7 separate regions of the Homo sapiens genome follow, and all the other regions are linked to region 1. Evidence: fine-mapped expression QTL. A gene starts in region 1. Each other region holds a variant in brackets. All regions are shown on one strand. Distances are from middle to middle. Region 1 holds the start of TREML2 (triggering receptor expressed on myeloid cells like 2). Region 2 has its middle 11 kb from the start of TREM2. Region 3 has its middle 21 kb from the start of TREML4. Region 4 has its middle 38 kb from the start of TREML1. Region 5 has its middle 20 kb from the start of NCR2. Region 6 overlaps TREM1 (triggering receptor expressed on myeloid cells 1). Region 7 overlaps TREM2 (triggering receptor expressed on myeloid cells 2).

Evidence for each region.
Region 2: its variant is fine-mapped to the expression of TREML2 in blood mononuclear cells (TOPMed, PIP 0.97).
Region 3: its variant is fine-mapped to the expression of TREML2 in whole blood (TOPMed, PIP above 0.99).
Region 4: its variant is fine-mapped to the expression of TREML2 in whole blood (TOPMed, PIP above 0.99).
Region 5: its variant is fine-mapped to the expression of TREML2 in B cells (Schmiedel 2018, PIP 0.95).
Region 6: its variant is fine-mapped to the expression of TREML2 in whole blood (TOPMed, PIP above 0.99).
Region 7: its variant is fine-mapped to the expression of TREML2 in whole blood (TOPMed, PIP 0.95).

The regions. Positions count from the first base shown.
Region 1 is chr6:41,199,283-41,203,590 of GRCh38, forward strand. It overlaps TREML2 (triggering receptor expressed on myeloid cells like 2), which reads right to left and starts at 1,867. Exons shown (of 5, transcript NM_024807.4): 1 at 1,672-1,867. The coding sequence starts at 1,726. RefSeq lists an enhancer at 2,086-2,155.
Region 2 is chr6:41,172,122-41,176,429 of GRCh38, forward strand. No RefSeq gene overlaps it. Among named protein-coding and RNA genes, the nearest start is that of TREM2, 11 kb to the left of the region's middle. RefSeq lists a silencer at 2,647-2,766. The variant G/A (reference allele first, on the strand shown) is at 2,123.
Region 3 is chr6:41,247,620-41,251,927 of GRCh38, forward strand. It overlaps the pseudogene TREML5P. Among named protein-coding and RNA genes, the nearest start is that of TREML4, 21 kb to the left of the region's middle. The variant C/T (reference allele first, on the strand shown) is at 1,979.
Region 4 is chr6:41,113,775-41,118,082 of GRCh38, forward strand. It overlaps the pseudogene ADCY10P1. Among named protein-coding and RNA genes, the nearest start is that of TREML1, 38 kb to the right of the region's middle. The variant G/A (reference allele first, on the strand shown) is at 1,839.
Region 5 is chr6:41,313,663-41,317,970 of GRCh38, forward strand. No RefSeq gene overlaps it. Among named protein-coding and RNA genes, the nearest start is that of NCR2, 20 kb to the right of the region's middle. The variant T/G (reference allele first, on the strand shown) is at 1,792.
Region 6 is chr6:41,272,401-41,276,708 of GRCh38, forward strand. It overlaps TREM1 (triggering receptor expressed on myeloid cells 1), which reads right to left. Exons shown (of 4, transcript NM_018643.5): 4 at 1,205-3,830. The coding sequence ends at 3,725. Among named protein-coding and RNA genes, the nearest start is that of TREM1, 12 kb to the right of the region's middle. The variant A/G (reference allele first, on the strand shown) is at 2,062.
Region 7 is chr6:41,157,797-41,162,104 of GRCh38, forward strand. It overlaps TREM2 (triggering receptor expressed on myeloid cells 2), which reads right to left. Exons shown (of 5, transcript NM_018965.4): 2 at 3,467-3,817; 3 at 1,996-2,086; 4 at 1,077-1,270; 5 at 712-984. The coding sequence ends at 968. Among named protein-coding and RNA genes, the nearest start is that of TREM2, 3.2 kb to the right of the region's middle. The variant A/G (reference allele first, on the strand shown) is at 2,642.

The sequences.
Region 1 (4,308 bases):
ATCTAGTATTTGAAAATATGATTAACAGTTATTTATTTCACAAATAGGTTCACTTAGTCCTCTTTAAATAATAACTCTCCTTAGTTCATTCCATCTGGTGTTTAGTTTTAAAATATTCTAGTTACATAAAACCCATAGATCAAGCCTGTCTAAATATACATGTAAACAAACTCCCAATGGAGTGTGAACCACAGGATTCTACAATTATTCACTTTCCACCTGCAATATCTTTCTCTCTATGCTGAGGAGTAAGATGTGGTCCAAGCCTTCATAATCCACAGTCTGGTAGAGACAGAGCAGAACTGGGGTGTGCAGGGTGACTCAGGGGACAGAGAGAGGGAGAAAGCTGCCTTGGGCTCCCTCCACCCCTCTGCCTGCCTTAAGCTCAGCTGACTCTTCTGATAATTTCACCCCAGAGTCTTCCAAAAAAACCACATATAAAAAGACTCTCCCCCATAGTAGAGAACAGAGAGCACACATTTTGGAGTCAAAATAAACAAGGGTTGAAACCCTGTTTCTACCACTTAGTGGTGTGATTAGGTCACCTGTTTGATACAGAAATATCAAAACAGACACTTGACTGATACAGAAATATCTCTGTTTCTTTATCAGTCAAGTGAGAATAGCACCACACCCCTCACAGGTTGCTGTGAGAATTCTGCCCCAGGTCAGTGCTTTGCACACAGTGCATGCTCAACTCATGCTTCCTTTTCCCACATGCTGGGGCCTCCCAGTTCCCCCAATGGAACCCAGAGCTGTGACAGTCAAGGGCCCAGAATCCAGGACATCTGTCCCACCAGAATCCAGGATATCCGTCCCAAGTCCCAGCCAGCAGCCACTAGAGCTGAGGCTCTGTGTGAAGCAGCACCCTCTCTAAGCATCCCTCTGTCCCTTGCAAACTAAACAGAATGATCCAACTTCATTATTTGGTGGATGAGCCCAGGATTTCTTAGCACAAGAGAGACCCCTTTCTGCCCTGGCAGTGGGAAGCTGTTTCTCTACCCTCTGGGAGGTGCAGAGTTGGGTGACCTTGGGATGGGTCTCCAGGGCAATGTCTTCATGTGTGCCTACACCTCCCACCCCTCTCACAGGCAGTGGTGAGTTTTGCCAACCCCCACCATGCCCAGAACTGAACAGGAAGTGGTAACTTGGTTGCCATGGCAGCGAGAGGGGCAGGAATGGGTGAGGTTCCTCAAGGAGCATTGGTATCTGTGAGGTGGGAAAGGCATTCACACACTGGTCCCTTCAGGACAGAGGCAGGGACAGGATGTGGCATCAGCATTTCAAGAAAAATGTTCAAATTCAGTTCAAAACACACATGATGCAATGATTGCTGTCATAACTAAGCAGGGCTTCCTGACAGAGGCCAAGCAGAGAAAGCTATTTGTGTGAGGAAATTGAGGGCTCTGCTTTAAAGCCTGAGGAAGCCTAGCAGATAAAGGAGCCAATGCAGAGAGGGTCCAGAGCTTTATCTTGGCTTGGGAGGCCTGGGTTAGCTTCGCCTGGGGCCTGATATTAGGGTAAAGAGCTAAGTCAGCCCTAATCTCCTCCTTCCCCAACCCACAAAACACTAAACAAGAAAACTGCTGGTAAGGAGGGTAAGAAAAAGGCCCTGAGCTCCTGCCTCTGTACCCACTCCCTCCTCCACAAGTCAGCCCCTTCTCCCCTCACCTGAGACGCAACCCTGTGGCCACAGCAGCAGCAGCAGCAGGAAGGCTGGGGCCATGGTTCCATCCAGCTGGGCAGTGTCAGGCCTGGAGATCCAAGGTGAGGGCCCACCCGACACAGGATGTGCCACCTGGGCCTGCCAGGGAAGGACCCGGGGTTCTAAAAGTGAAGCTGCCCATTTAGGGAAGTGAGGCAGTGTGGGACCCACTGCCCCCAGCCAACCGCAGGGATTCATTGAGCCTATTATGAGGGCGGTGCTGGCAGCTGTTTCCGCCCTTTTCCTCGGAACTTCAGGCAGGTGTGGCTGCTCCACCCAGTCTGGGGCCCCAAGCCGGGAGGACTCACAGTCAGAGGGCTCCCCGCCCTCCCCAACCTCCCCCAGAAACTGGTCCCTAGGATCCAGCAAGGGGGCTGGGGTGAGGCTTCTGGAACGTCAGGTATAGACCTTCCTGGAATCTTCTGGGCTCAGAGACCCAGGGGTGCGGGCTCTTAGGCTGAGATGGAGCATCTCAGACCCTAGTTTCTTACATATATACATTCACAGGGAAGTTCTTATAAACTCTCATTCATTCATTCATTGCAGATTCTTTCTGTTCCTTCCTCTCTCTCTCTCCCAGGCTCCTGGCTGCTCAGAACAGTCACTTGTGTTCACTGTTGCAAATAACCTCTTACAGGCTCACTTGAAATCTTACTTTTGTCAAGCGGGAAAAATGCAAATTGTTAAGACTCAGGGCATAAATTTTGGGTTGAGGGAGGGGTTCCTGTACTCTCACACACAGGTGTGCATGCACATGCACTCACACTCACAGTCTCACTTTGTCTTTTATTCACTTTCACACACACACACACACGCCCATGCACACAGTCTCACACACACCCCAGCAGCCTCTCCTTTTCCCTATCCATACGTCTCCTCTCTCTGTCCCTCTCCCTGCCTCTCCTCCTGTCGACTCTACTCACCATCAGCTCCCTCTAGACTCCTAGTCCCTCGTGCAGGCTTCCTACAGCCTCCGCAGTACTTCCCCTCACCCACCTCATCTCAAGACCCCCTTCCTCCCCTGCCTCCAGCCTACGTCAGCACGCAGGCAAGTGCCCTCCACTTCCTCCTGCTCAATGCTATCTCGCCTGTACAGCCACCAGCTCCAGTGGAAATGACCCAGCACTAGGCCCAAGACCACACCCTTCACTTACCCCAAGGCCTAGAATCAGAAGCATCAATTTTTGATGTCCGGTACCTGTGTCATCTGCTCCTTCAGTGTGTGGGGACCCAGCTGGACTCCCGTGATTATGTATGCTCCCCCTACTCACTAGTGCCATGTTTCTACTCCTTAGATGGGACTGTCAAAAGGTAAACTGAGGCACAATAAAATTTTAAACAGATTATTTCAGCAAACAACAATTCATGAATCAGGCAGCTCCAAACAGAAGAGGTTGAGGAGCTCCACTGGGGGAATGCAAGGGGAAGACTCCTACAGGACAAGTAAACTGAAGAAAATATTTAATTAGTTATAGTTATATAGTTCCCTTATTTGGCCTATCCTGTTGGAAAGACCCTAGTTAATTATATAAGTTTCTTTTGATTGGTTGAGCTTAAGTTCTATTTTTCCTTAATATACACATTTACAAGAAATAGCTCGTGTTAAGTTTCACTGATATTTGCAAATCAAGCAAAGTTGAGGTCACTTATGAGGCCTAACTGTTTTTTTAATTTTTGCTCAGGGACTCTTCAGGCCTGGTCTCCATTTTCATTAATTTTAACAGGACTCAGAGCAAAAAGTCCTCAAGCTTGCATGGCCACAATCTTAAATTGACCTTGAAGCCCCAAGCTCCAAGCAAAGAAGTCTATCTCGGCTGACCCTAAGCTTTTGTAGTCTCTCAACTCATTCACTCACTCATTAATTCATTCATTCATTTGTTCATTCCCACAACCTCATTGCTATGCATGGGGCTAGGTAGGCACTGGGGGCGTAGGAATGAGACACGATTGTCACTTGAGACCTCTCAGCTCACAGACGTGTTTTGTTTTCCTTATTCACCCTTCCTTTTTCAATGTTTCTCACCCAGTCCTCAGAACTTCCTGAGCTCCCTGAGTTCAGGGGCCATCTCCCCTCCCCAGCACACACAGTAAGTTCCTCCATCCCTTCCCCCATCAGAACAGTAAGTTGCTTCAGGAGTGGGGGATTTATCTCTTGTGGGGACTTTATGCGCTTGGAATCCATGATTCTATGAAACTGATACAGTGCGCCCAGCACTGAGCCAATCATCGTCTAAAGTGTGACCCTTGGGATCACTGTGCTGATGAGGGTAGAAAGAATCAAACATTCATTCGCTGATCGAGGAAGTATGCACTGGATTCAATCTTTCTTAAGAGAAATTTGGAAGCATTGGTCAAAATCATTAAAAATACGTATACATTAGACTTTTACATCTATCATTTGATTTAATACAGCAGTGTATTTTGTCTTTATATTTATTTTTCCCATTTAAAAATTAAGGCCTAATTTACATACAGTACTATTCACCCTTTTCAGTGACGAGTTCTGGGAGTTCTAGAGACTTGTATCCAATGCCGTAATGGAGACAGAGAAGAGTGCCATCATCCCGAAAAGCTTTCCTCTGCTCCTTGTTAGTCATCCCTTC
Region 2 (4,308 bases), 27 kb before region 1:
GACCATGCCTGGCCCCAGGTAGCCCTTTTTATCTGTGCAGCTGCAGCCATCCCCCTTGTGGAAGCTTCCAGCTTCCTTATCTATGTTTGCAGCCCAATCTTCCAGGCTGCTCTTTGTTAGAAAAGAAGTGATTTCTTGGGTTGCTTTTTGTTAGAAGTGAAGTTCAGCCGAGGACTCTTTGCCCTCACTAACTGCCTAAATAGTTTTTCTCTTTTTCTTTTATTTTTTTTTATTATTATACTTTCAGTTCTAGAGTATGTGTGCACAACATGCAGGTTTGTTACATATGTATACATATACCATGTTGGTGTGCTGCACCCATTAACTCGTCATTTACATTAGGCATATCACCTAATGCTATCCCTCCCCCCTCCCCCCAACCCACGACAGGCCCCAGTGTGTGATGTTCCCCACCCTGTGTCCAAGTGTTCTCATTGTTCAATTCCCACCTATGAGTGAGAACATGTGGTGTTTGGTTTTTTGTCCTTGTGATAGTTTGCTCAGAATGATGGTTTCCAGCTTCATCCATGTCCCTACAAAGGACATGAACTCATCCTTTTTTATGGTTGCATAGTATTCCATAGTGTATATGTGCCACATTTTCTTAATCCAGTCTATCGTTGATGGACATTTGGGTTGGTTCCCAGTCTTTGCTATTGTGAATAGTGCCGCAATAAACATACGTATGCATGTGTCTTTATAGCAGCATGATTTATAATCCTTTGGGTATATACCCAGTAATGGGATGGCTGGGTCAAATGGTATTTCTAGTTCTAGATCCTTGAGGAATTGCCACACTATCTTCCACTATGGTTGAATTAGTTTACAGTCCCACCAACAGTGTAAAAGTGTTCCTATTTCTCCACATCCTCTCCAGCACCTGTTGTTTCCTGCCTTTTTTTTTTTTTTTTTTTTTTTTGAGACAGAGTCTCGCTCTGTCACCCAGGCTGGAGGTGTGATCTCCGCTCACTGCAAGCTCCGCCTCCTGGGTTCACAGCATTCTCCTGCCTCAGCCTCCCGAGTAGCTGGGACTACAGGCACCCGCCGCCATGCCCGGCTAATTTTTGTGTGTGTGTGTGTGTGTGTTTTTAGTAGAGACGGGGTTTCACCATGTTAGCCAGGATGGTCTCGATCTCCTGACTTCGTGATCCACCCGTCTTGGCCTCCCAAAGTGCTGGGATTACAGGCGTGAGCCACCACACCCGGCATGTTTCCTGACTTTTTAATGATCGCCATTCTAACTGGTGTGAGATGGTATCTCATTGTGGTTTTGATTTGCACATCACTGAAAAGCCAAAATTGACAAATGGGATCTAATTAAACTAAAGAGCTTCTGCACAGCAAAAGAAACTACCATCAGAGTGAGCAGGCAACCTACAGAATGGGAGAAAATTTTTACAATCTACCCATCTGACAAAGGGCTAATATCCAGAATCTACAAAGAACTTAAACAAATTTACAAGAAAAAAATCAGTCAACCCCAACAAAAAGTGGGCAAAGGATATGAACAGACACTTCTCAAAAGACGACATTTTTGCAGCCAACAGACACATGAAAAAATGCTAAATAGCTTTTTTCTACCTCCTGTATCAGAGGGTTCGATTCCCACTAATGGAACAGCACTGGTGGACCCCATAGATGGTGGGGCACTGTTTCCCTGGAATGTCCTCATCTAAGCTAGGTCACAAGTTCTTCCCTTTACACCCACAGCACACTGGGCAGCTCGGGATCAAACAAGAAAATACATCCTGAAACCAAAGTGCATCCTAATATTATTTAACCATGAAACTCTTTTAAAACTGTTCTAAATTTCACAACATCAACAGGAGCTCTGGAGTTATAACCTATGCCTGGATTAGAGTAGAAAGCAAAAATAGTCCTTAAGACAAATCAGTTACTACAAAATTTGATTCTCCAATACTTTTAAGCAGAATTTTTAAAATGTCAGCTTAGAAATATTAACTAATTTTAAAAGACCTATGTGTTAAAATTATGACTCAAGGCATAATAGCACTTACTAAGGAGAAGACATACATCAATGATATCAATAGTTACTTGGTAAGTACTTCCATTTTTTTTTTTTTTTTTTTGAGATGGAGTCTCGCCCTGTCACCCAGGTCTC[G/A]CCCTGTTGCCCAGACTGGAGTGCAATGGCACGATCTCAGCATCCTCCGCATCCCAGGTTCAAACAATTCTCCTGCCTCAGCCTCCCAAGCAGCTGGGATTACAGGTGCCCACCACCATGCCCAACTAATTTTTGTATTTTTAGTAGAGATTGGGTTTCACCATGTTGGCCAGGCTGGTCTCGAACTCCTGACCTCGTGATCCACCCATCTCAGCCTCCCAAAGTGCTGGGAGGTAAGTACTTCTTATGCAGTCAAAACAACGTACCTTCTAGTAACGGGCAATTTCTCCCAGGGTTACCTGCCATACTTAGGAGGGACACAGCTTCAAAGGGGATTATATCTATTGTTAAAAGAAAAACCTTAGACAAATTAAATTTAACAGAGTTTTATTGAGCAAAAAAATGACTCACAAATCAGGTATCCCCCAAAATCAGAATAGGTCAGAGAGGCTCCAATCCTATCACATGGCTGAAGAAGATTTATGGGTAGAAAAATGAAAATGACATACGGAAAACAGAAGTGAAATACAGAAGCAGCTGGGTTTCTTACAGCTTGGCATTTGCTTTATTTGAACATAATTGGCCACCTTTGTTTGAAGGAAACTTGGTGATTGGCACAAGAGCAGGTTACAGCCTCTTTACACATCCAGTTACGTTACAATCCACTATGTACTGAAACTTTTAGGCCAGACTTAAAATATGCAAGGAGGCAACTTTAGGCTAAACTTAATTTAACACTATTAACTATATAAAATATGTTAAGCATTTTCAAAATCTTTTAAAAACCATATTTAATGACTTTTTCTGTGAAAAATACATAAAAATTCACTCTGAAAAGGTAAAAGTTGTCCATAACTTCCCCACTGAAAACACTAACATTTATTGAGTGCTTACCATGTGATAGGCATTGTTCTAAACATTTTACATAAAGTATTTACAGCATCATTATAAATCAATGTATTATATTGATGTTAATATATCAATATAGTATGTTAATCAATATTGTAATGCATATTGTATTAACACATTAATGAGTAATGTATTACATCATTACCTATGAGGCAGGTAATATTATTTTTCCAGATAACTGAGACTCAGGGATGTTAAATAACTTGTCCAGGATCACCCAACTAGTAAAAGGTGGAACTTAGGTTTAAACCTAGGTAGTCCGACTCCAGAGCCAGACTTGTTAACAATTTTATTAAGAGTGGAATTTTCTTCCACTCTTATAATCCCATTCCCCAGAGGGAATCACTACTACTAATATTTTGGTGCTTAGTCATCTAGACTTTTTTCTGTGTTTGTACATACATGTGCGTGCACACATACTCACACACACACACACAAGCTTATTTTAGGGCTGTCATTTTTCCCATTTAATATATCGGGGACATCTTTCCATATCAACAAATACAGGCTTACTTCATTCTTTATAATGTCTACGTGGGATTCCCTGGTGTGGATATAGCAATTTATTTAATTATCCTGTTATTAGTAGATATTAAAAGAGTTTCTAAAAGTTGGTTCTTGCAAATTGTAATAAACATGGCTTATTTTTCCTTACATTAAAAATATTTGGAGAAAATATATTAGTAGCATGGTCCTAGTAAGTTCACATAACACTTATTAATATCTCTTGGAAAATCAATGTTTTGTGAAACACTGAGAAGCGAGTCTCAATCCTTTAACAGATACAGTGAGCTTACTCGCCTTCGCTCTTGATTCACTGCTTTTGTGTTACAAGGCTACTGTTGTGTAACAAACCCATCTTTAGTCAATCTCATGCCTTGGATCTCCAAACCATCACCACAGCCTCAAATATCACAACTCCTAAAACACAAGACCTAGAATATCAGGGATCAAAGAGACATGGAGAATCCACTCTTTCACCTGACTCAGCCCCAACTTATCGAATTCTGGTTCTGGCTGAGGAAACATGTCTTCTCAGTGGAGACACTAATGACCTATCAGTAGGCGGGCAAAGGATTAAAGAGCCAGGAAAAACTGGCTCGAGGAGAGATTTGGTTGGGAGATGTGAGTGAGAAGGTAGCTGCCAGGTATTGACAGCAAGATAAATATGGGCTTTGAGAATATAAACTCGTGTTTCCTTGGAGGACAGAATAAAGTTGTAGATTACTCTGATGATGCGCGCGCGCGCGCGCGCGTGTGTGTGTGTGTGTGTACTG
Region 3 (4,308 bases), 48 kb after region 1:
AGGGAGGGGAGAAGGGGCTGCCTTGTGGAGGAGGGAGTGGGTACATAAGCAGGAGCTCTAGATCTTTATCAAAAACCACCCTTCTTGCTTTTCTGGCCCAATTGTCTTGTTTAGTTTTTTGTGGGTTCAGTGAGGAAGAGGTTGGGGCTGACTTCGTAGCTCTTTACCAGAGACCACTGGGCATGGTGGGGGTTGGCAAAACTCACTCCCTACTGCCTGTGAAAGGGGTGGGAGGTGTAGGCACACATGAACACAGTGCCCTGGAGACCCATCCCAAAGTCACCCAACTCTGCACCTCCCAGGGTCAGAGAGGTTCCTCCCTCTGCCACAGCAAAAAAGGGTCTCTCCTGTGCTAAGAAATTCTGGGCTCATCCACCATGCAATGGAGTTGGATCATTCTGCTTAGTTTACAAAGAACAGAGTGATGCTCAGAGAGGGTGCTGCCTCACGCAGAGCCTCAGCTCTAGTGGCTGCTGGCAACTGGACAGATGTCCTGGGTTCTGGGCCCTTGACTATCACAGCTCTGGGTTCCACTGGAGGATCTGGGAGCCCCCAGCGTGTGGGAAAATACAGCATGCATTGAGCACGCACTGTGTGAAAAGCACTGACCTGGGGCAGAATTCTCACAGCAACCTGTGAGGGATGTGGTGCTATTCTCACTTGACTGATGCAAAGACAGAGATTTTAGGTGCCCCGATCACACCGTTAAGTGGTAGAAACAAGGTTTTGACCCGTGTTTATTTTGATCCAAAATGTGTGCTCTCTATTCTGTACTATGGGGGAGAGTCTTTTTATGTGTGGTTTTGTGGGAGACTCTGGGGTGAAATTATCAGAAGAGTCAGCTGAGCTTAGGGCAGGCAGAGGGGTGGAGGGAGCCCACGGCAGCTTTCTCCCTCTCTCTGTCCCCTGAGTCACCTTGCACACCCCAGTTCTGCTCTCTCTCTACCAGACTGTGGATTATGAAGGCTTGGACCACATCTTACTCCTCAGCATAGAGAGAAAGATATTGCAGGTGGAAAGTGAATAATTGTAGAATCCTGTGGTTCATACTCCATTGGGAGTTTGTTTACATGTACATTTGGACAGGCTTGATCTATGGGTTTTATGTAACTAGAATACTTTAAAACTAAACACCAGCTAGAATGAACTAAGGTAGGTTATTATTTAAAGAGGACTACAGTGAACCTATTTGTGAAATAAATAACTATTAATCATTTTTTCAAACACTGGATTTTCTTATCTACCTAATTAGTTGGGCACTGAAATTTCAGAACTTAATGACCTGTGTTTGTGTCTCTGCATCTTTCTCACTGGGTTTTTCCCACAAGAATGTCACTCTCCCATCAGACTAGAAAATACCATGAGGAAAGGGGCTGTGTCTGATGGAGCTCCAAGTGTAAGTGCTGCATTTCCTCCATTAGACTGGGGGCTCACTGTGGGATATACCTGCCTCCTCCATCAGACTGAAAGCTCCCTGAGAGGGGGACCTCTGTCTGCCCCCTAATACTGGGAGCTAGCTGTTTTCAGGGCCCATTTACCTCCCTTCAGACTGGGGCAAGCTCCCTGAGGGTGGGGCTGTATTTCCCCCTCAATCTGTGGGTTCCATGACAGCAGGACAATATCCACCCCGCCCTTCACCATGATCTTCAACTTTCATGATGTCTTCTTCCTCTCCTCTTGCCAGACCTTATTCAACAAGTCTTGTCTCCACAGGCCCCTCTGCTGGGAGCGCATACACAAAAGTGAGGCTCCTTGAAAGGGGGACTCTGTCTGTGCAGTGCTTCTGTAAGGGCTACAAAAACCGCATGGAGGGCAAGGTTTGGTGCAAAATCAGGAAGAAGTGTGAGCCTGGTTTCACCCAAGTCTGGGTGAAAGGGCCCCGCTACTTGCTGCAGGACGACGCCCAGGCCAAGGTGGTCAACATCACCATGGTGGCCCTCAAGCTCCAGGACTCAGGCCGATACTGGTGCATGCGCAA[C/T]ACCTCTGGGATCCTGTACCCCTTGATGGGCTTCCAGCTGGATGTGTCTCCAGGTGAGCGGGCTGCAGGGGCACTGGGACGGGTGGAGGGAGTCCTCCCTGCCCCACACTCCACTAACATCAGAGATAATAAGGATAATAATCCATCAATGGTCATGTTGCACTGTAGTGTTTTCAAAGTGCCTTTATGGCACTATTCGTGGCACTATTGTCACCATTTTACAGATGAAGATAATGAGACCTGAAAACCCAGTGTGACTCTGAGCTTGTCCGGGGTCCCAGAGCTAGCAGGTGGCTGAGATAAAGTTCAAACTTGGCACTGTCTGTGCTGTGTTTTATTCACTCATTGCTTCAACATAATTCACTGAGCCCGTATTATGTGGCAGGCACTATTCTAGGCTCTAAGGAGACAGTAGTGAGCAAAAACAGACACAATCTTGCTCTATAATAATTGCAAATAACAAATTTTTGTAAGAAAAAACAACACTTGTAAACAGGAAAGTTAACTCAGTAATGCGGGAGCTGTGGAAATACTGAGGATCAGAAAACACCTCCCTGAGCAGATGACACCAAGCAGACCCCTGAATGGTGAGCATTCTCCAGCTCTGTTGAAATCTGGGTGCTTTGAAGGGCACTTTGTGGCAAGGGCTGCATGTGCAAAGGTCCTGAGGTCAGAAGGTGCTTGGCTTGTACAAGAAAGACTTATTTGGCTAGGTGCAATGGCTCACGCCTGTAATCCCAGCATTTTGGGAGGCTGAGGCAGGTGGATCACCTGAGGTCCGAAGTTTGAGACCAGCCTGGCCAACATGGTTGAAACCCTGTCTCTACTAAAAATACAAAAATTAGCTGAGTGTGGTGGCATGTACTTGTAATCCCAGATACTTGGGAGGCTGATGCAGGAGAATTGCTTGAACCTGGGAGGCAGAGGTTGCAGTGAGCCAAGATTGCACCATTGCACTCCAACCTGGGCAGCAGAGTGAGACCCTGTCTCAAAAAAAAATAAAAAGCAAAGAAAAAAATGCTTATTTAGTAACTCCATATTGAGTGCAGGACAGTGATTGATGAGGCTGGGAGTCAAGCAGCCCTGAAGCCTATGAGATGAAGTTTGGGTGATTCTAAGTACAAGAGGAAGCTACTGGAGAGCTAAGAGAGGTGTGTCACAGCTTATTTTTAAGTATGTAGTGGCCACTTGTCGAGGATGGTCTAGGGAGGGTATGAGCATGGGCATGGAGGCCATTGTGAGCACAGTGGACAGAGTTGCTTCCCAGCCTGGAGGGCGAGGCAACCTCTGTAAAACACCAGTACTAGCCCTCCCAACATTTACAGGTGGAAAGCTGGTGCGGGAAAATATCAGCCAATACATGTGCCATAGTAGGGGACAGTCCCAGGACAGCGGCCTGGGACCCTCGATACTTCATCCAAGATGATCGCTTCTATGGCGTCTTCACCGTCACCATGACTGAGCTCAGAGTAGAGGCCTTGGGATTCCATGGGTGTGGAATCTCTAAATCCCCTGAGATCTCTATTGTCAGAATCATCTGCCTGGTGGTATCTCAAGGTGAGTTCTGTCCCTTCGTATTTGTGGGTCTCAGACTTCCTGAATCACAAGGTGTTAGAGCTGGAGAGGATCCTAGAAATCTTCTCCTTCCACCTTCTCATCACTGAAAACTGGGGACATGGAGAAGAAAAGCCCCTGGCCTAAGGTCACCTGCTGCTGAAGGGCAGAGCCAGCCCCAGAATGCAGGCCTGCTGGCTTTTGGTTCTTCCTTCCACATCGTACGTATCGCCCTTAACATTTTTGCTGCTACTAACAGGACTCCTCCATTTATTTGGAATGAGTTTAAAGTTTCCCCATGCTTGAGCACAAAGGGCTTAATGGTCCATTCCAGACATCCCTACCCTTGACTCTAACTGCCAGCATCTTCTCAAAGGGCTGTAGTCAAGAAAGATCACTGAGTAATGGGGTGGGGGGATAAATGTGACATAGGAGATAGCCAAACAATGAGGCTGACATGAGACTTAGGGGGTGAGGCTGGGAGGTGTAGTAGCCAGGGGCTCAGGGGACCTGGATCCTCTCCCTGGACCTGCCCTTATCAGTTGAGAGTCATTAAGCTTCAAAATGAGAAGCTAGGGGTCACCACTAATCCTAAGGCCCCTGGGCATTCCCCCTGAAATTAGAGTTGCCAAGCTCTCCTGCCTTTTTCTGTGATGGTTAGAAACAGTGGTGCTTTTTCCCTGCTGCTGAGTGTGCCCAGCCACTTGGTCAAATGGGCATCTGGAGGACCCCAATAAGCTTCTCTTTCTTCACTGCCCAAGCTTTGGCTCACTGCC
Region 4 (4,308 bases), 86 kb before region 1:
CTCATGAAAAAAGAAAAGATTTTCATCACCAAATATGTTTGGGAAGTGATGCAAATTATATTTCCTTCTTCAAGGTTCACAATGAACATTAACATATCAAAGGTTCTGAGTAGTGCTATGGGAAAGAAATTTGTTATATTTAGTTTTAGTCAGCATTTCCCAAATTTACTTGGTCATCAAACACTTTTCTCCAGAAAGACCTATAAACATCCAGAGGAACTAATGTTCTAAGGAAGATATTTTTGGAAATGCTGAGCAGATGCTAAAGCTTCAGAGGTACCTACGTGGCCTCGGTAGCAGATACCATTGCTCATTTCTCTCTGCATTACATGAGCTCTCAGACCCAAAACTACTTTCCATGCCTTCTTTTTCAAAGACCCTGTTCACCTTGAGATATCCTCTGAATTCCTCTTCCTAATCTGAGAAATAGCTCCAGCTTTTAGCTCATTTAGAGGAAAGATGATTCCATGCATATTTCTTCAGGATATTTTTGAGACATAGGGAGTGCAGTCTCAGAATATCATTATTATGGTTTTTCAGTACCAGAAATACTTTATATACAATGACATATATCAAATAAAGAGTACATTCTTTATCAATGCAGAAAGGTTTTAAAGGAAAGAAGGAATATGGATTGCCGGGAAAAACAAGGAGGAATTATAAAGTATAATAGAAAGAAATAAGAAATAACTAAGTGATAAAAGTATTATTTGTTCATTATTGACTTGCTAATAGCTGAATTTCTGGCATGCATAAATGCATTCATTCAACAAGCATTCCTTGAACACAGTTATGAGCCAGGCACTGTGCTAGGTGCTATGGACATAAAGAGAAATAAGATTTTACCAGTTCAGCTAAGTAAACAACTAACTTTAATACAACGAAATTAAAGTGCAGAAATAAAATGCTACAGGAGTTACAACAATGTGCTATGGGAAGAAGTGGTTAATTCTCCACAGAGGTACCAAAGAAATCTTGACTATAAAGATGACTTTTGAGACAGGTTGAGAAGAAAAGTAGTTCAGCAAATGGAGAAGGTGGGAAAGGGTATTTAGGCAGAGGAAGCATCATGAAATTTTAAAAGATTTTCAGTCTTGCTCTTCATATGGCAGCAGAACTGACAGCATGGTCTTGTCTTAAGTGTCTCTTTTTTTCACCCTGGGGGCAGTGAGCTGAGTGAATGAATGGTAAGAGACTTTTTTTTTTTTTTTTTTTTTTTTTTTTTTTGAGACGGAGTCTCACTCTGTTGCTCAGGCTGGAGTGCAGTGGCACAATCTTGGCTCACTGCAACTTCTGCCTCCCGGGTTCTAGAGATTCTCCTGCCTCAGAATCCCTCAACTGGGATTACAGGCACACACCACCATGCCCACTAATTTTTGTATTTTTAGTAGGGATGGGGTTTCACCATGTTGGCCAGGCTGGACTCTTGAACTCCTGACCTCAGGTGATCCGCCCACCTCAGCCTCCCAAAGTGCTAGGATTACAGGCATGAGCCACAGCACCCAGCCAAGAGCCCTTAATCCTGTCCTTTGAGGAAGACAAATAATTTTGATGGCTTAGGAGGTAATAGTGTTAACATGATTGCTACTTCTCATGTTGTCTGAACCACTGAAAATTGTTTATAGATTTAATGTGACTATGCCTCATTGCATAATCTTTCTCCACCTACATATCTTGTTACCTGTCACATGAAATTTTCATGTCAGTGAGTAAATCTACTTATTTTGTTATGTATGAGTTGCTCCTTGCCACCTTTGGGCTTTTGCCTCACCTAGAACAGTATATGTCCTCTTTTAAAATAATTCATATGTCTAATACTCTTCCATCCCTAGAGAGGT[G/A]AGACTACTTCTCCCATTACCTCTCTCTAATCCAAACACCTCTCTTCACATCTGTGCTCTAGCCGTCTTGAAGTACTTAGTTTTGCATGACCACACAAGGCATCTCAAAGCCTTTACCTTTTCCCACCAGACAGTACCACTCCCCCACTTTAGCAATTTCTTCAGCTTTCAGGGTCCGACCAAATGTCCTCTCCTTTAAGAATACTCTATCTACTCTTCAGTGTGAATTAGTGCATCTGTTCTGTTTGCTCTGCTAATGTGCTATATCAATCTCTAATATGGAGTATTTGTCTTGCTGACATATATAAGTATCTCTTCCCCTCCCTCAAACCTACCACCCTCCTCCCCAAACTTAACTTCTCTAGGGCAGGATATTTTAAACATCCAGCCAAGTACTCAGTACTATGCACACTTCTCAGTGCTTAGTGAATGAAATGAATGTATGTATGCATTAATGAATTTTTAAAATATTACTCATTAAAAAAAATTTGTTCCAAATGTTAATTTACTTCAGAAAGCCTTCTGTCTGCAGTCCTGACATTCTGATCACTCCTTAACTGTGACATTCTAGCATTATTTGATCTATTAATCCTGTATTGATATCTCTTTATCTACTTTCATTTTTCAGTTTTATCTGAGACAACATGGTATAGTAGAAATAATATCAGTCTAGGAGGCAAGAGGCCTGGATTCTCATTCTGACTTACTGTTCGTTTTTGCTATATAACTCTGGGAAAGTTAATTAACCCCTTCAATTTTTTTTTCTCAAATGGTTTTTAAATATTTGCCTTACCACAGATGTAAAATTTTTTTTTTTTTTTTGAGATGGAGTCTCACTCTGTTGCCCAGGCTGGAGTGCAGTGGCACAATTTCCACTCACTGCAAGGTCCGCCTCCTGGGTTCATGCCATTCTCCTGCCTCAGCCTCCCGAGTAGCTGGGACTACAGGCGCCCACCACCATGCCTGGCTAATTTTTTGTATTTTTAGTAGAGACAGGGTTTCACAGTGTTAGCCAGGATGGTCTCGATCTCCTGACCTTGTGATCCACCCACCTCAGCCTCCCAAAGTGCTGGGATTATAGGCGTGAGCACCGCACCTGGCCCAGATGTAAAATTTTTAAAAATCTTTTACTGGCCAGGTGTGGTGGCTCACACCTGTAATACCAGTGCTTTGGGAGGCCAAGACGGGTGTATTGCTTGAGCCCAGGAGTTTGAGACCAGCCTGGACAACATAATGAAACCCCATCTCTCTCAAAAAAAAAAAAAAAAAAAAATTAGTTGGATATGGTGGTGTGTGCCTGTAGTCTCAGCTACTTGGGAGGCTGAGGTGGGAGGATCACTTGAGCCCAGGAAACGGAGATTGCAGTGAACTGAGATCACACCAATGTGCTCCAGCCTGGGCAATAGAGCAAGACCCTATCTCAAAAGAAAAAAAAAGAAAGAAAATCGTTTACTAATAACCCCCAACTAAAACTAAAACTCCTGAATTAGGGGAACCATTCTGTTTCTTTTGGTTCTCTCCCTAATATTCAGTACTTTGTAGCCCTCATGTTATATAGACTGACAGCAACCTCTGGCCTTTTCCATTCTAAGCTCTAAAACTAGACTTCTGGATCTGGGGAGTGGCAGATCTAGTGCCTGACTTGGAGGCTTCTGACTGTATGTTTATCCATTGTTGCTTTTCAGATCCCTAGATTTGTTTCCATCAGTATCACTAATGGACCAGTATTCTGTGGCGTGGTTGGAGCAGTAGCAAGACACGAATATACAGGTAGAATAGGACATTGGACTGTTATCTTTGTGACTTAAGGGAGGAAGGTGGAAGACATGGCCCAAAAATTCTCCACCTGTCTTTCTGACACAGTTATTGGCCCAAAAGTGAGTCTTGCGGCCAGAATGATAACTGCTTATCCAGGTTTGGTGTCCTGTGATGAGGTAACATATCTAAGATCCATGCTACCTGCTTACAACTTCAAGAAACTCCCAGAGAAAATGATGAAAAACATCTCCAACCCAGGGAAGATATATGAATATCTTGGCCACAGAAGATGTATGTGAGTATCATTGTGTGATAGTTTCATTCTCATCTCTTACAGAACAATAAGTTTTTGATTACATGAAATTGGAAAAAAAGATGCTGCTAGTACTGGCATGCTGGAATAAGACACACAAAAGGAGTGTTTAGTGTCTGAGAGATTTAGCTTTTATGTTTAGCTCTTAGCTAGTTCTTCAATGAACATCCTTTTCTCCTACAGGAAGAGAATAGCAATAGGTCACTAACCCAGATCTTCTTTGTTCTTTTTTTCTTTGTGTACTTCACCATTCATTTACTTCCCCGAGCCTGGAACAATCAATAATATTCCCTCTTTACTCCCTCTCCCCCAAAATTTTTAGTTTTTAAAAACCTTTTTATTCAGAACTCTGTACCTCCTTAATTATCTGAAAGTATTTGCTTATGAAGACAGCTGTTC
Region 5 (4,308 bases), 110 kb after region 1:
ATGAGCGACCTTGACCCACCTTGGCAGACAACTGGGAATGAATGCCTTAGAGAGGTTGCAAAGAAGGCTGGGTTTCTGTGTGTGGTAGGGAAGGGGTGGGCAATAGGTATAGGTGAGGATGGTGACAATGTCCTGAAAACCATGGGATTATGTGAAGAACATGTACCAGAAGCTGAGAAACACTCCAGCCCTCTTCTCCTATTTGGATTCCAGAAAGTTGGCAGCCAGATCTTCTTCCTCCAGACAAGAGATGGGGTGAGTCTTCCCTGGGGATCCTGAGCAGCCCAAGAGAGAAGGCTGAATGATATTGACAAGGCACTTCCTCAAGCAAATGGCCAAGGAGTCACCCTCCTGTGAAACTCCCAGGGCACCAGCCCCACTGTGGGCTCACAGCATCCAATTATCTTTAGAATTTTGTTACCCAGGCCTGAGAAAAAGCTCTCAAGTGAAAGAGAAGAAAGAAACTAAACAGAGAATAGTGAAGGCAACTGGGAAGAAACAGAGACCACCTAAGGAACCATAAATAAAAACAGAAAACTTTTTCTCCAAGGGCTGTTTCCAAAACAGAGGGAGGCAGAGAGAGAATGAGAACAACAGAGAAATGGGAGAGAAAAAAAAAGAAAAAGACAACTGATCCAGGAGGTGAATGCTTGAATAAAAGGAGTTCTAGAAAGACAGAACATAGAAAACAGAGAGGGGAAAATCATGCATGAACTAATTCAAGAAATTTTCCTGTGAATTTCTAGATCGAAAAGGCCACTCACTGTGCGGAGCAAAGGGATGGAAATAGACACACTCCAAGGCTCATCCCTGTGACATTCCAGGACACCGAGAACAAAAAGAAAACGCTGATAAAGTGAAGACAACAGATCACATATTGCCATAGTTATCATAATTGCTCCTGACTTTTCAACAACAATAGGAGCAAGAAGGTAACATAGCAATGCCTTCAAAATCCTGAGGACAAATTGTTTCCAACTCAGAATTTTTTATATCAGTCAAACTGTCATGGTAAAACAGGCATTTTTAAATATAAAAGTTGTCAAAATGTATTTTCCATTCCCCCTTTCTCCCGTAGTTACTCAAGGATGGGTTCCACCAGTACAAAGGAGTAAACAAAGATCCAAGAATCAAGAAAACGTTGTAGAGGAGACAAAGAGAAGCCCCAGAAACATGAGGAAGAGACAGCTGTGTACCAACTGGTGGAGGCAGTGCATCCATACAGGGCAAAAAAAGGCTGCAGGCATGACTTTTTAGGAAGATGCTCAACAAAATACTTGCTGAGAAAAAAAAAAACAAAACTTAGAAATGCTGGTTCCAAAACATGTGCTTTTGTTTGTTTGTTTTTTCTTGTTCTGACTTTTAATTCATTACACCACTGCTCTCCAAGAAAAGGCTATCAATTATTCCCTTCCAACAATGCATAAGAATGACTTTTTCCCTACTTCTCCAGGACAGAATATAATTATCATTTATTTTAATCTTTTTTGAACTGTTAAAAAGATAAACTGAGGCACAGTAAAATTTTAAAGAGTTTTGGTGAGTTTTTTTTAGCATGAACAATTTATGAACTGAGCAGCTCCGAACCAGAAATAGTTTGGGAGCTCCACTGAGGAACACAAAGAGGAGACTTTTATAAGACAGACACAGAAGTAAAGCAAAGTATTTAATTGGTTACTGTTATACAATTGCTTTTTTTGGTCTCTCAACTTGGAAAGCCCCTCGTTATCTAAGTTTGTATAAATAGTAACTTCTGATTGGTTGAGCTTAAGTTCTGCTTTTAAAAATATA[T/G]ATATAGATATAGATATATATAGGCATTCACAAGAAATAGCTCAAGTTAAGTTTGGTTATGTTTGCAAATCAAGCAAGGTTTAGGTCACTTACAAATCATAACTTCTTTTGTCCCCTCTGGGATTCTTCAGGTCTGGTCTCCATTTTAATTTACTTTAACAATCCCACCGCGTTGGGTCACCCTCTCAGCAAGCTAAGAAGAAGGTGGTAGCATTCCTCTCAGTTACCACTAGTGAAATAGTCACTGGAACAAAGAGTCATGTAATCTTATCCTCAACAGTTGTATTGGGATATAAGATTACATGGCATCATTACCTGCATCATGGGCTTCAGTGGTAGGGTTGTTGAGTTCTTCAAGTCAATTAATGATGATGGCAATCATTTGATGTGTGAGTGCCTTCTGGAAAGCTTTGAAATCCTTGAGAGGATAAGATATAGTAGGATGGTAAACAAAATGACTACAGAGAGAATAATAGCCAAGGATTTTTAAATTCCCTGGAGCACAGATTCCCAGGAGCCAATATTTCACCAATAAAATAAATCAGTGGAGGAGGCAACACCTGTCTGATAAAAGACATATTTGTTCCTTAAGATCCTTTAAATTGGGCTCAACAATTTCTAATTTATTAATATAGAAACAATATTTTTTTTTACAAATAAGAGCCTCCTTGTTAAGTTGCTAAGGTATCAAGGACTTCTATTTTGGAGTACTATTGAGGTTAAATTGTTTATTTCAGATAGTATTGCTTGAAGGGAATTCAAGGTAGCATTCTATAAAAACAAAAGAAAAAAAAAAGGTTAACATTAGGAACAAATTATGATCTTAGTCTTTAAGTCCAGAGAGCAGCCTGTCAAGATTTCTAAATTTGAGTTTGAAGCATTTTTAGATGATGGAATGAGGATGGCAATTGCAACCTGATGGATTTTCCTGGCTTGCAGTTTGAATGTCTCTGGAAATATCATCAGGTGTTCCAGTGAATTCTCCAAGTGACCCACACAGCAGCAGCATGAAAATTTTCCATACATGGTCTGTTGTAGTAATTTTTCTGAATTTAAAGTCATCCAATTTCAGCTGGCAGGGCTTCGGAAAAAAGCAGTTTTAGTTTCTAGTGAAACTAGAAAATGTTAGGATTCAATCCAATTTACAAGGACATAACAAAGACCAGAATTTGATGATGGGTGCTATAGTTTTCTATTGAAATACAATCTTTTTTATGGTCATTCCAAATTTTTCCAAAAATAATCATGGTTAACTCTTCTTTTTGTGCAAAATCAGTAGTCTCATTAAACTTGATCTGATTATTTACATAAGTGCAACAAGAAAAGTGATTCTATGTATGCATATTTTTAAAATACATCATTTTGTCAAAGTTTTGATAATATCCAAGGGGCTTTATTGACTTTGTATAAGTCAATCTTAGTTATTTGTTCATTTTATTGTTTGTTTTACTATTTGTTAACAAGGAATCTCAGATTAGACCTTTAAAAACCTCTCTAGGCTAGGAGGCCAAGTTAAGGACTTACCCAATTATGTCTTGTTATAAGAACAGATTCTTATTGAACCTATGCAAATACCTATATTGCCATGAAAATAAGAATATTCAATAAGTGCTTCCAAATTATGGGGTGATCAGGTAGGGAGGAAAAAAACGTTTTCTTTTTGTTTACAAAAGTATATTTTATCAAATTGTTTTAAGTTATAGAAAAAAGTTTTCCTAAATCTAGAAAGCAAGACATTAAAGAACCAGCAATGTTTCAAACGAAAAGTTATAAAAATTATAATTATTCTCATCAGTTAATTTAGTCTCACATAATTAATTTTTGTTTTGCTTGATCTTGGGTTAGCAGATTTATAAATACATTACTTTTCCATTAGAGGTCTGGAAATTCTTACCTAGCCTTATAGTATGAGCTTAAAATTATCAGAAACCTGTACTCATCAGCCTTTATCATGAATCTCTTACAATTCTGTGTCATGCAACTGACAAGGGAGTTTGGTTGCTTTGGTAACATACGACATTTTAACATAATAATTAAAATTATGGATGATAACATTATACTAGTACATATCAGATTTCTAGGAATTTGACATAATTTCTGGAACACTCATCAATAACAAACATAACTTAAAGAAGGTTTAGCATCACCCATTATTTGACATTGCTTCTCATGCAATTTAACATATCAAATAAGCCTCACTAGTTTAACATGTCTGTTTTTACAAGAAGAGAAGATAAATTCTTTTGAGATATTCCAGGGACCCTTTTGGACACTCCCAAAGTTGGTTTGAGGTCAAAAAGACCTATATGGCATGGCCAGTTCTAGGGGTAAGGTTGTGTCCATGCCAGTGTGTGGCATATGGCGATGTTCAGCTAGCATGAGTCTGAATTAATTACCACACATAGGAGCCAGAGTAAAGTGTTCCCAGGCCATCTACCCCCAACCAATGTCCCCACTTATTACTGCAACCTCTTACATCTTCTATAACATGCTCCAAAAAGTACGCACAACAGTAAT
Region 6 (4,308 bases), 73 kb after region 1:
ACAAACATTGTTCATCCCCCAAGGCCGGGTTCAAGCCTTTCTGCTACATCCTCCCTCTTTAATATCACCCCGCACCATGGTTCCCAAGGACAGGCACGTGGCTTCACTCAGGAAGTGTGGCAGACATACACACCCAGGCTCCACCACCAGATATTCTGACTTGGCAGATCTGGGAAGGGACCCAGGAATCTGTATTTTAGCAACAGCTTAGGTGGTTCTGAGGCAAGGAGTCCAAGTTGACCATGTCTGCAAGAGCTGCATATAGGTAAGATGGACCCTGCAGCATGTCTCGGTGACTCAGGGGCTTTGCCTGAGTACCAGGTATGGGCTTCCCTGAGCTAACCTGTCCAGGCACAGGCATGGAGACCCCAGTTATAACAGTAATAGCAGTAACCACCATGGATTGAAGTCCTACTGTGTGTCAGGTGCTTTACTCAGGCGTCTCCTTGGATCCTGTCAACATTGGGAGATGGTATAATGGAGGTGTGTCATCTTTTGACTCTCCAGTACCAAACACCTTTTTCTTTTGGGGGCACAGGCCCCAATGTGTGAGTTTCACCAGATGCAGAGTTCTGCTTCCCCTTCTATTGAGGATGGAAGCAGCTATTCCTCCCACCCTTCTCCCGGCAGCTGTGCTGCAGGCACGTGACTTGACCTAAGCCTGGCCACATGCATGATTCTGCCCAGGACCCCAGATCTGCGGATGAGGCTCAAATGCAGGGCCAGTTGCAGATTACTTACTCAGAGGCAATTTAAGGATTCAGAGTCTAGGAATAGCATGGTGGCCTCCAGTATCCAGGGCAGTGGCATTGATGGCAACATGTCCAGACTGTCTCATGTGGCCTCTGCTGTCCATTCTCTCTTGGCTTCTGCCCATTTTCTAAACCCAATCCCCCAGCCTCTCATCAACTCTGAGTTACTGATATCCCCCTAGAATTCCCTTGCTGTTTTAGATAGCCAGAGTTGGATTCTGTTGTTAGCATCCAAAATCATCACTGGCATGGTTAGGCACTATCATGCCCATTAAGGCAAGGAGGAATATTGAAGCCCAGAAGGTTAACTGAGTCACCCAGGATCAGACACCCTGCAAGGATGCAGAGCTAGATTCAAACCCATACATGGTTTTCCTCCAAGACCTGTGTCGTTAGCCACACAACACTATTGTATCAGTCAAGATAACAGCAAGACACCGCTGGCTCATTGAAACTGGGTAATTGAGGAGCATTTAATAAACATGTGCATAGAATTTAGGGAATCCAGTAAGGGGTGCTTCAGTATGCTGAGGCTGGCAATAGTGGTGGGTCATTCCCACTGCTGGGCCTACAGAGGAGAGGATGGAACAGGTGGCTGGACTTGGAGATGGGAGCTGTTTGCTGAGAGGCTTGAAGGAGCCTTCAGAGGGGAATGCAGCCACTCCTGCCACCACCTGCCAGGGAGGGAGCCCTGAGGACAGAAACCCTGATCTGACTGTCTCCCCACCCTCGGCTCTCCTCTCATGCTTCCCATTGGCTCAACCAGCCAGAAGCTGGCAGCCAGGGAGCCTGCTGGTTTAGCCACATTGGTCAGGTTCCCAGGCAGGATGGGGAGGATGGAGCATGGCGTGGCCTGTAAGTGCAAATGGGAGAGTATCCAGCACGGCCATTTGTCTTCCGATTTAGTGCATATAATATTTCAGTCACGTTTAATATGTTGGACTTAAATAACACTTGATCTATAATAAGTTAAGCACACAAGCATGCACTGGACCATGCAGTGGGTTATGTCTGGATGAATCTGTATGAATGTGTCATGGGCTTTGGTAAGGAGTGTAATGACTTTTTGGAAACAAGCTTGAGATCCACTAAGAGGGAGCTGTATACTAGTATACAGTAGGTCTGCAGGGGCCCTGGACTCATAAAGCATTTGCTTTATGCTCCAGGAGAATCTGATGCGGTGGCCTAAAGACCTCTGAAAAACATTGCCCTCATGTGTTCTGCCTCTCCTAGAGTGTATTTAATGATAATACCCCCTTGCCCTGGTCACTTTGTCAACTTCATAAACAGGAACAATGCTGGGATTGCT[A/G]AAGTGTGGGGTTCCAGACCAGCAAGCTCAGCATTATTATAAACACTGCATCCTGTACAGTCACTGCCTCTGAGCTGCTTGGTTCTTTTAGGTAGGAAAATAAATGCACCAAGATTAACAGCTTCTGGATCTAGTGCGTCTGCAAAGATTCTCACCAGAGCATCAGGATGAAATAAATGCCCACCACACACCTTCTAATGGGCTCAAAATTGCGGTTCAGAAATCATCTCTCTAGGGTCATTACCATTACCTGGGCAGGTTCTGACAGAGCAGCATTTAGGGGAATGGGGAAGTCCTTATGCGATGGAGCAGTCTGGAAGCTGGACCTCCCCGTGCAGGGAACTTTTTCCACAGAAGTGGTGCTCATTGTAAAAATACATTTACCTAACATGAGACACACGGTATGTGTGGAAAAGTATGATTGCTCTTGGGAACTGAGGATAATATCTGCCCTGGGCATCACTAAATTGGGCTGGAAGGACCCACCATCCTTTCCCCACCCATGAGGCCCATTTCCCTTTAAAGCTCAAAGTAGGAAATAACAAAATCCTGATTGAAATCTGTGGGAGATTGCAAGACAATCTCCCACAGAGATTGTCTCTGTGGTGGCCTGAACACCTACCTGCTTCACCGGGGAGGGCACTGGAGAGAGCATGGAAACTGAGGCAGGTGTTCCAGGAGCAGACTGAGAGAAGAGGAGGAGGGCAGAGTGGGGAACTAGGCAAGCACATGGGGACAGCCTCCAGAAGCCTCCCAGGGGGAGAGCTTTTACTCCACCATCCCTGACCCTTGTGTGATACAGGAAAAGAGGCATTTAGACACAGGCGGAACTCCTGGTTATTCTATTCTATATGGTTTTGGGGTCCTTCAGGTAAGGAGCGCTTCAGTTTTCACTCCTGCCAGTGGGCAGTGGCTTATTCATGTGGCCTCGTTCTAGTCACATACATTTCTGCCTTCACGGGGCTATTTTCAGGATCCAGCGATAAATGCACACAGGATGTCTGACATGGTCTGTTGTTGCTCTCCTATGGATCCCATCTCGGCCTGCCAGTATTTCCCCAGAAGAAGATACTCAGTTTAACTCTTTTCTCTGAGAAGGATGCACTTTCTCACCACGATGTCTTATTTCTCCAGGTTCCACAATCTTCAACACCCTTTTCTGGGAGTGTTGGAAAGAACCACACATAAGCATGAAACCCAAGTGTCTGATGCTAGAAAGAGGAAGTCCCAGCATGGGGCGAGCAGGATGCTTCTGTAGTGGGAGCTCTGTCCAGGTCAGGCCAAAATTGTATGGTCCAGGGCAAAACTGAGCAGGAGAAGTATCAGGTGTGCCTTCTGCATGTCACAGCCCCCACAAGAGAATTACGGTGAAAAGCATTGAGCTGTCTGTATTTCATGCCAACCCCAAGTGGCTGGTGGAATGAAGGACCAAGCATGTTTGGGGCTGTAACTTCTTTTCTGAGGCACAAATGCCCACCCAAGATTATTAGAGGAACGAGGGCAGTGGGCAGGAAGGTGAGACGCTGACTTTAGAAATAGCCGGTGATTACAGATTTAATTCATGTTATTAACTCCCTGCCTTTTACCTCCTCCCTCCTCCCTTGGCACAACTGCCAGATGGATGTGGCTGGAAGTCAGAGGACATTCTCGTGGGTTCGTGGGCCTAGGGTACAAATGACCTCAGCGTGACAGCAAACAGGACAGAGAAGACCAGGCTCTTACTCAGGAATCCACCAGCCAGGAGAATGACAATGTTGAACACCGGAACCCTGCGGGAGACAAGAGGCTGAACGCTACTGCTGGCAAAGTCTCTCCCACACGCACATGTTCCCTCTAGAAAATGCCTTCATGTCCCACTCTCCTCTGCTTAGATCCTTGCTCCACCTTTCCCGCACTGCCTGACCCTGTGCTTTTCAGTCTGTCTCATTGCCAAAAACTACTGATTAGAAACAATTCAGTGGAGAGTATAGGTCCCTGTCCAGGAGAGGCACTGGAGGGAGACAGTCGGGCTGATCAGCCCATCCTCCTCCCTGTGATGTGGTAGGGAGAGAGGACTCTGGCCAGGAAACCCGCTCTCTATTCTCAGTACCGTACCCTGCCTACTGGGATGGTCATCTCACCTCTTTAGCTCGGTTTCCTCACCTATAAACCGAGAAGAATCCACCCGTAGTGAAAATCTCATCATGAATTTTATAGATTTTGGCGAAATGATTCTAAGGTTTCTGGGTAAACATCAATAGGTATCAT
Region 7 (4,308 bases), 41 kb before region 1:
CACAACTCTTGCCTCTTTTGTCCACTGTTGTATTTCCAGTGTTCAGAATAGTACTCGCCACAGACTGGTTGCTCAAACTAATACTTGTTGAACAAATAAGTAGGAGTGAGTCAGAGGAAAGAGCACCTTGAATGCCAAGTGAAATTTGGATTTCCAGGCTCTACTGGGGATTTTGGGTGGGGATTTTGGGTAAGTTCCTTTCCCTTGTTGAGCCTCAGTTTCCCTTCTATATGATGAGGGGCTTGAACCATCAGTTCCCAGTTTGATAATGCTGTACATTATCAAGCCCTTGTCATTTCTCCGAAGGGGAAATGATATGATGAAAACAGAGTTCTAAGGAGATGAATGGATGAGTCTGCCAGGAGTTGACCTTGGTGGGGAAGAACTGAGTCAGCTGGAGGGGGCCTTGGGGCAGGGAGGTTCCATAATCCAGGGGAAGCTGATGGAGAGGGTGAATGCTGGGGAGGAGAGCAGAGGAAGACTGGGTGCTAGAGAAACCCCAGAGGAGGAGGCAGAACTTGGCGATCAGATCTAGGGAAGGGAAGAGAGAGAAGAAAAAAACTGACTGGCTGATTGAGCCTGTGAGAATGGAGGGATGTGGTATCCTATGGTCCTGGGCCTCAAGGAGCAAAATCTCTTGTCTTTTTCTCATCCAAATTCATTTTCTTACCCCTGTGGAAGAAAATGAGACTTTCATGATGCCCAAAACTATCCAGCTAAATATGACAGTCTTGGATTTATTTGTAAGTGTTTAAAATGTCCAATATTCAGAAGTTGTCAGGTGTTCTTACCACCTCCCCACTCCCTCAACCAGTCCCTGCTTCCAGGGTCCAGGAGAAGCAGTGTTCAGGCAGAGTAGTCTCTTGCCAGAGCAGAACAAGGAGTCCTGGTGGCCAAGTGGCAAGTATGCAGGCTGGGCTGGTCCCTGGTGGGACTTCTCCTGGGCTTTTCCTCCCATCATCTTCCTTCACGTGTCTCTCAGCCCTGCAATAGTCCAAGGACTCATGTGGCCCCTCTCGGCACCGCCTCCCATCCCTGCCCAGTCCACCCTTGATGGCTGTGCTCTCCAAGCCCACCTGGCAGAGTTTGGAGCTGATACCCTGGGTCATGGCCACAGTCCAGTTCACTGGGTGGATGTGTCCCTGGCTTCTGTCCATGCCAGGCTGCAGCCCAGAGGGCGCTGGCTGCTAGAATCTTGATGAGAAAGATGCAGGCCAGGAGGAGAAGGATGGAAGTGGGTGGGAAGGGGATTTCTCCTTCCAAGAGGCTCCTTGGAGAGACAAGAAGGCAGATGGGAGCCTTGAGATGGCCTACAGATTAGAATCTTCTCTCAGGGAATGGGGAGAAACCAGGAGCTTCTAGGACCTCAGCAAATCCCACCCAGCACCATCCCTGGGATGGGCCTTTTTGGAGCTTTGGGAGCCCATAGTCAAGAGACTTGAGTTCTAGGCATGCTCTGCCACTAACCTGCTGAGTGCACTTAAACACACCACCTTCCCTCACTGAGCAGTTTTCTTCTGTATACAGTGCTATGCCATGGGTGTGTGTGTGTACACACATGTGGTTATATGAACAACGTTTAAACACCAGTACACAGGCATGGACCAGTCAGAACTGATTCTGGTCCTACCAATGAAGCAGAGATCTGGGGGTCTTAGCTTTGTACTAAAGTACTAAAACATTCATTGTTGCTGAATTATGGGGATGTCTGGGGGCTGCCAGGGGAGGGGCGGGAGCTGATATTCAGGAGTCGTAGAGCAACTGCTCTTTACAAAGCATTATGGAAGTCTTCCAATAAATGAACAACTGACACAGTCACGCTAACTAACTAACATGTAGCAGCTGGTGGAGGGGTGTTTACATAAGAGATATCCAGGGCCCTTCAGGCTCTAGTTGCCTTGTAATTTGTAGTTCAGGATGCCCAGCCCCCACCCCCGTGGGGCTCTGCAGGGTGGAAGTCTGCCCACGGGTTTTAGGAAAGACCCATCGCTGTACCTGGAGATGCTGTGCTCCACATGGGCATCCTCGAAGCTCTCAGACTCCCCGGGGAACCAGAGATCTCCAGCATCCCGGTGATCCAGGGGGTCTATGGGAGGCAGAGCCATGAGCCTCCAGCCCCTTCCTCCTCGAGGCAGGGGGAGAACCTTGGCGGGAGAACCTTTATGGGTGGGGTGAGGTCCCCTGGGCACTGGTCCTATGTGGATCAGGTCATTACACTCCATAAGCCTCAGTTTCCCCACTTATAAAGTGGGCCGTTAGGAACACTTCCTTAATAGCAGGGTTGCCAGGATTCCGTGAGGGCACCTCTGTGCCGTATCCAGCACCTCATCGGAGCTCAGTAACTGCAATGCCCCCCTCCTTCCGCACAGGGGCTAAGAAGAGCAAATACAATCGTGGATGTACTTGAAAATCCTATCTAAACTGTCAAGCTGTCTACACAAGCTATGGGCTACTTTTATTTTTCTGTCTCCCTCTTGGGAGGTGGCTAAGGGAGTTCACTGCCACCGGCCATCCTTAGGAAAGTGGTGGAGGTGGGGTTTGTGTCTATGACTGGCAGTCTCCCCTGGCCTCCCCAAGTCAGGCAAATACTACTCCTGACCTCATTTCCATGGTAAAGAGCCATACTGGGAGAAGGGGTTGG[A/G]AAGGAGGAGAGTCAGAAAAGGCCTTTGTAGCCCCAGATTTGTTCTCCTTTGGGGACACAGTTGTGTTCTGCAGACTCAAGCAGAAGGCCTTCCTGGAGGGTGGTCCCTGCGCAGAGCTCGGGGGTGGAAAGGAGACACCCTGGCCCACCTACTCACACCTGGAATGACGATCCCAAGACAGTTCAGTAGCAGGAGGCTTGGAGCACATGTCACACCCTGCCCCCAACGCCCCCCGCCAAATAAAAACTCACAGGAACCCTATGGGGTCAGCAGGACAGACACCACCCTCTCCATTTACAGATGAGAGAATGGAGGCCCAGAGAAGTGAAGCACATTGCCCAGCACAAGCAGTGTTCCTTTCTAGGGGTGATTTTCTGCACCAGGTTGGTGCTTCACTTACGTTGATAGGGCCATTGGTTGGTTGGTGAGGGAATAAATTAATCTCCTCCTCCTTAAGGACCTCCTATCATGTTCACATGCTAACTGGATGGAGATGGATAAAGCTGTTTGGGCAAGGAGGGCCAAGGCCAGGCTAGTTCACAGAGTGCCTTAATGCAAAGTAGAGAAAGGTGCCCTTCTTGCAGGTGATGCAGCTCTGCACCAGGGAACACAGTCTGGCAAAAGGAGTCCGGGCTGGATTTTGGCCCCCTTGTATAGTGAGCAACCTGCACAACTATCCTTGGTAGCCCTGAGTAGGGAGATGAGACCATACGATGGGTTTTCCCAGGATCCCTGAGAGCCCAGTGGGTGGTTCTGCACACAGACGCCCAAAACATGAGGCCTGGAACAGGGGCAGGCCAGAGAGGCAGCCACTGCCCACTCACCTGCCAGCACCTCCACCAGGACCTTCCTGAGGGTGTCAGCCTCACTGCCATGGAGGCTCTGGCACTGGTAGAGACCCGCATCATGGGGTTGTAGATTCCGCAGCGTAATGGTGAGAGTGCCACCCAGGGTATCGTCTGTGATGGCTGTGCTCCCATTCCACCTCCTCAGGAAGGACAGCAGCCACAAGTTGTGCGTGCTGACCACACGCTGGCATGGGCCCTTCTCTCCCAGCTGGCGGCACCAGGCCTTGCGCCTCCCCCAGTGCTTCATGGAGTCATAGGGGCAAGACACCTGCAGGGACTGGCCCGCCACGCCCTGGAACACTGTGGTGTTGTGGGCTCCGGACAGCTCTGGGGAGGAGACATTCATTCACTCCTTTGTTTACCAAATACGCTTTGAACACTTGCTCTGTGCAGTGACCTAAACAGACAAAAATCCTGCCCTGAAGGAGCTTAGGTTCTTATACAAGTTGGGAGCGGATGGCACAGCATGTGTTTGTGGGAAATTGGGAACCAGGAAACCTGGGACCTGGGTTTGGTTTTCTCACTGTTGCTCTTGCTGGGCCTCCTTGGAGAAGTAACTGACCTTCTCTGGGTCTATTCTGGAGGCACTTGGTCTTAAAACCCCCTCCAGTTCTGTTCTGCACATCTCTTTGCCATCATTTGGGACTGGGACCTCTCCTCTCGGCCTGGGGCTGGCTCTCCCTGCCCCGCCACTCTTGCTTGCTCTGCAGCCGCCCACATTGGTACCGACTTTCCTGACCTTTAACTTCCAGCTTCCCTATTTCTGTGGCTTTGTTCCCCTTTCAGGAAGGACCCGTCTCGGAGATATTTTGGGGGAG